Linked DNA regions of Homo sapiens: region 1 is linked to region 2. Evidence: fine-mapped expression QTL. A gene starts in region 2. The other region holds a variant in brackets. All regions are shown on one strand. Distances are between the middles of the regions.

Evidence for each region. PIP is the estimated chance that this variant, and not a neighbour inherited with it, causes the effect.
Region 1: its variant is fine-mapped to the expression of LRAT in atrial appendage (GTEx, PIP above 0.99). The same link has a PIP of 0.9 or more in gastroesophageal junction, tibial nerve and visceral fat.

The regions. Positions count from the first base shown.
Region 1 is chr4:154,625,352-154,628,253 of GRCh38, forward strand. LOC124900169 (a long non-coding RNA gene) reads left to right here and starts at 1,611. Exons shown (of 6, transcript XR_007058343.1): 1 at 1,611-1,798. RefSeq lists a silencer at 1,438-1,567. The variant C/A (reference allele first, on the strand shown) is at 1,657.
Region 2 is chr4:154,742,579-154,745,480 of GRCh38, forward strand. It overlaps LRAT (lecithin retinol acyltransferase), which reads left to right and starts at 1,422. Exons shown (of 3, transcript NM_004744.5): 1 at 1,422-1,644; 2 at 1,748-2,288. The coding sequence starts at 1,749. RefSeq lists enhancers at 1-260, 261-773.

The DNA of each region.
Region 1 (2,902 bases), 120 kb before region 2:
CCCTTTTTAGGCAATCCCTTCTCCCTCTGTATGGCTGAATGTAGGAAAAAAGTATCTCCCTCCCATGGTTAGTTAAGGATCAGACTCACTTGTTCTAATCTTGCCTGTACAAGTTAGTAGCTCTGTGTTCCTGGACTATTAGTTAGCCTCTCTGTGCCTGTTTCCTTTTATCAGACTGACTTCCTTGCTCCTCAGCTTGCAGATGGCCTATTGTGGGACTCACCTTGTGATTATGAGAGTCAATTCTCCTTAATAAACTCCCTTTCATATATACATCATATATACATCTATCCTATTAGTCCTGTCCCTCTAGAGTACCCTGAATGATCCACCAGGCTGTCGGGGCTTAAATTCCAGCTTTATAACTTACTTCTAGCTGTGTGACCTTAGGAAATGTTCCTGCTTCTTTGTCTCAATTTCCTCAATTGTAAAAAGGGAATAATATTATTACCCATCTTATAGGGTTGTTTTGTCTAATGTGTTAATAAATGTAAACATTTAAAACATTACATAAGAGCTGATTTTACTATTATTATAAAAAAGCTCTTAAAACAGTTTCTGGTCAGCATTAAGAACTCAATAATTGTTAATGGTTAATATTAGTCATGTAACTACCCAGATAATCCATAAACTGTATTAGTCATCCTGTTAAGAAGCAAGGCCTGGTTTGTCTTCTTCCTTTTATTATACAATTTTACTGCTTCTAATTTAAACTCTTGCCTCCCTAAGTTCAATCCAGGAAGAGAGTCAGGATTAAAGGACTAGAAGGAAAGACAAGAGTGCTGATGGAAACAAAACTACTCAAATATAGGTGTTAAAGAGAGAGAAAGAGACAGAGAGGGAGACAGAGAGAGAGAGAGAGAGAGAGAGAGAGACTTTGTCAGCTAAAAATTAACTAGACTGTCAGCTCCTGCGTCTTCTGCATCCCTCTCAGAACCTGGAAAAAAATATTTGCAGTGGTCCTGATGTCCGCAGCAGGCCTTGCTCCGATGGTTTTGCAGAGTAGCAAGTGAAGATTTCCAAAAGGCGGAAGAGCGGGATAAGAGAAGAAAAAGAGATAGATAAGCTAGCACAGGAACAAGGCTCAGAGCAGGAAAGTTACCAGGACAGAACAGGGAGGGACTGACTGTCACAGGGCAGGGAGCAGGAGGAAAGAAGCCACTTTTCAGTGAAAGGTATTTGTAATTACAAGAAAGCCAGGTTCTTCAGGGCCCTGGAGAAACAGAAATACAATTCCCTGGCTTCTGGGGAGAGCACTTAGGGGCTCCTATATCCTCATCCCTTTGGATTTTCCCTTCTCAAACGCCAGAATTTGGAAAAGGGTGGGGAGGGTCTTTAAATTATTTGGCACAAACTCCGAAAAAGTGGAGAGGCTGTGAGCCAGCCACCCTCCGACTAGGTTTTGTGGTGATGGTTGCTGAAATCACTTGCGCACAGGATGACAGGAGCTGGGAACCTCAAGGTAGGTGAGCCTGCCAAGACGCGGGTCCGGGACTCGGCTGGGGCGCAGATGGAGCCCGCCCGGTAGGGGGTGTGCGGAGCCCTGTTTTCTGGGCTCCGGCCCCCAGCCCAGCCCAGCCGCCGCAGGAGCGCTCGGCCAGTAGGTGTCTCTGCTCCTCGGGCGGCCTTGAGCAGTGCCTAACGTTGAGCGTGAGG[C/A]TCGTGCTCCGGGTCTCGCGGGCGGCCGCCTCGGGCGTCGAGTCCCGGAGATTGGACAGACACCAGAGCCTGGGGACCGCGGAGTGACCGGGTGGGGCTGGAGGGCGGCGCCGCGCCTTCTGGGGAGACGCGGAGGTATCAGGTAATCCCCCGGCGGCCTGCGCCAGGCAGTCATGCCCACCCGAGCCCTGGGACCTTTTTCACCTCCTCTTTCCAGGGAGGAAAGGCGGCAAGGGAGGCGCGAGGAGTTAGTTGCAGCCCTGGAGGCAGACACTGAACTCCAAGATAATGCCACTTGGACTCTGAAAGTGGGCTCTTCTCTACCACGCGATCCAGCTTAGCTTTTACCTTTTCTCTAGAGGTAGAGAGGGCCGGGTGCCAACTCCTTGCTCAACTTCTCACTGGAAAAGTGGCTGCCTTCCTCCGTCTCCCTCCCCTGGGCTCCGGCCAGGGGAGCAAGGCCTGCTGTGGACATGAGGAACTCCCTGCCCTGTCCTGGTAACTTTCCTATTCTGCACCTTCGCTTTGCTAGCTTGTCTACCTCCTTCTTTTCGCTAGCTTATCTACCTCCTTCTCTTCTTCGCTCTTCCTCCCACTGGAAATCTTCACTTCCTAGTCCGCAAAACCGTCCAGCGGAGGTTTGCAACAGAGTCGGCTCTTGGAATCATAGCCCTCTTAGGTTGGTGGTGGTTGTGGATTAGAGGGCAGCAGTAGGGACGATTAAAAGTAGTTTTTAATACTTAAATGGTTTAGGGCTTTCCTGTGCCTTTGTTCTGCCTAAACATTAGTTTGATTTACTAAAATCCTCTCCTACCCCATTTCTGGCATTTGGTAAAGAAACCAAGTGAAGGTAATCAGGCCTCGGGTATTTATGTATGTAGAAATCATCTAGCAAAATAGAACGAATAGATCATTTCTTTTGAGGGGCCGTAAACTTTTTTGTATGTTGAAGTGTGTTTTGATACTTGGGTGTTCCCTTGTTGCTGTGGCTGCCTGTTTCATTTGATTTGAGGGCCTTTGAGCATTGTCTGTCATTGACATTCTACTACTGAAGTTTATTCCTTTTGTTTAAAGTCTTAATATTCTTTTCCAGTCCCCCTAATGAATCACGGTTACCATGAGAAGGATGACCTCATGTTATTGAAGAAAAGTCCTGGTCTGAGATTCAGGAAACAAGATTCAGATGGCTTGTGTCCAGTGTTTAGTTCTGGACCCATTTCTGGGGCTAAGTGGCTATGTGATTTTG
Region 2 (2,902 bases):
GCAGCTTTGTGGAGCCACCCGAGGCTCTCCATTGTGGCCTTTGTCTGCAGAATTTAAGCATTTACATAATGCATTAGCACGGAACTCAGCACCCGGTGGGGACATCGCGTGCCAAGCCTGGCGCGGCCAACGCTTCAGCGGCTCCCTCACCCGGCAGCTCCCTAGGACCACCCTCGAGGAGGCATTGGAGTCGGGCTGCAGGCGCACGGGCAAAGAACTTAGCATCTCATCCAAGTACTTCGCCTTCCTTGGCCGTCTCCGGGAGGTTATGCTTAAAAACATAAAAATAAAAATAAAAATAAAAATAAAGGGAGGCGGACAAAGTTTCGGTGGGTGAACTGAAGCTGGGTCCATGTGACCCTGAAGCCGGAGAAATAAACTTAACATGAATCTTGCTTTCCTGGCGGGCGTTGGGACCCCGCCGTTTTTCATGCCAACCGTTGGAAGCTTCGTACTCAACGGCCACAGGTGCCTAGGAGCGCAGAGAGGCCTCGGGTTCAAATCACCGGCGCGCAGGGACTGGACTCGCGGGTAGCGACCCCCCCAACCCCCCCCCCCCCGCCCTACACACACACCCTCGCGCCGGCTGAAAGCATGGAGGATTCAGGGCATTTGAAAAAAGAGGGGCTGGGCGCGGTGGCTCACGCCTGTAATCCCAGCGGTTTGGGAGGTCCAGAAGGGCGGATCACTTGAGGTCAGGAGTTCGAGACCAGCCTGGCCAACACCAGCCTGGCCAACATGGTGAGACCCCGTGTCTACTAAAAATACAAAAATTAGCCAGGCGTGGTGCCTGTAATATCAGCTACTTGGGAGGCTGAGGCACGAGAATCGCTTGAACCTGGGAGGCGGAGGTTGCAGTGAGCCCAGATCGCGCCACCGCCCTCCTGCTCTGGGTGATAGAGCAAGGCACTGTCTCAAAACAAAACAAAACAAAACGAAAGATTCGGTCAGGAAAGAATCTGCAGGCATTCGAGGCGCTCGCACTTTGCAAAGTAAATGCAATCTCTTTATTAAGCCGAAGTCCCTCATATCTATCCTTTTAGAGGAAGGTGGTCCAACTCAGAAATCTCTCCCAAGAGGACTTTCCACCGAAGACTACCGCGAAGTGCCAGGAACTCGCCCCAGTCCCGACAGGTGCAGGACCTTTCGTGCCGCCACACCTTGGGACTCTACCTCCCTAAATAGGCCACTTAAAAGCCAGTAGTGCAACCGGGATCCCGCGGCGATAAAGAATCACTGTGCAGAACCCTGGAGCTGGGAGTCGGCCCGCCCCCCTCCCAAAGAAACCGGGATCCCGCGTCCTCCCCGCCGCTAGCGCAGCGCGCCAGCGGCGCCCAATCAGTGAGCTTTCCGGGTCTGTGACGGCCTTCGGCTCCGCCCCCTCGACGGCCATAAAAAGTCGCAGCGAAGCCTGCACCTCCGAGCACCGCGCGCGGCCCTGCCCCCGGCACGGCCCCCAGGTGCGCTCCTTCTCCGGCTGCTTGTAGCACTGGTCTCACTGTCCCCGCCGTCAGCCACCGGTTCCTTATCCGTCTCATTCCCCATTGTGGCTTGGCTGAGCCGGTCGCCAGGCCTCGCTGTCCTCCTTTGCCTTCCTCTCTCCTCAGCGGCCGTACTTTGCGCCGTACCTCACCTGGCCTGCAGGTGAGCAGCAGCGCAGCACCCCTGCCCGGCGAGCTTAACTTGCCCAGCCCGGCCCCTGCCGGAGTGGCACCGGCACCTCTCCAAGACGCCCTCTTCCCTGCAGGATGAAGAACCCCATGCTGGAGGTGGTGTCTTTACTACTGGAGAAGCTGCTCCTCATCTCCAACTTCACGCTCTTTAGTTCGGGCGCCGCGGGCGAAGACAAAGGGAGGAACAGTTTTTATGAAACCAGCTCTTTCCACCGAGGCGACGTGCTGGAGGTGCCCCGGACCCACCTGACCCACTATGGCATCTACCTAGGAGACAACCGTGTTGCCCACATGATGCCCGACATCCTGTTGGCCCTGACAGACGACATGGGGCGCACGCAGAAGGTGGTCTCCAACAAGCGTCTCATCCTGGGCGTTATTGTCAAAGTGGCCAGCATCCGCGTGGACACAGTGGAGGACTTCGCCTACGGAGCTAACATCCTGGTCAATCACCTGGACGAGTCCCTCCAGAAAAAGGCACTGCTCAACGAGGAGGTGGCGCGGAGGGCTGAAAAGCTGCTGGGCTTTACCCCCTACAGCCTGCTGTGGAACAACTGCGAGCACTTCGTGACCTACTGCAGATATGGCACCCCGATCAGTCCCCAGTCCGACAAGGTATGATGTGTGACTCCCAGGGGAAGTGGGCTCCGCGGAGATGCCCCCTCCCATCCCTGACCTTTTCTCTTCCCCGCGAGTAGGGATCTAATTCCTGGACACCTCCCCTACCACTTCCATACCATCCTTTTTCTTTTTCCTTTTTTTTTTTTTTTTTTTTTTTTTTTTTTGAGACGGAGTCTCGCTCTGTTGCTCAGGCTGGAGTGCAGTGGCGCGATCTCCACTCACTGCAAACTCCGCCTCCAGAGTTCACGCCATTCTCCTGCCTCAGCCTCCTGAGTAGCTGGGACTACAGGCACCCGCCACCACGCCCGGCTAATTTATTTTTGTATTTTTAGTAGAGATGGGGTTTCACCGTATTAGCAAGGATGGTCCCGATCTCCTGACCTCGTGATCCTCCCGCCTCAGCATCCCAAAGTGCTGGGATTACAGGCGTGAGCCACCGTGCCCGGCCTTCCATAACATTCTTAAAGTTCTAGATTAAGTAAGGAAAGTTCTGGTGTTCCTAAGGTAGGCTAAGTAAATAAGCAAATGGCAACGTGCCTTGCAGGATATCTCGAAATGCTTAGAGAAAGGATGTGGCAATGCAGGACCGCTTCCAGAGATTCCAGAGC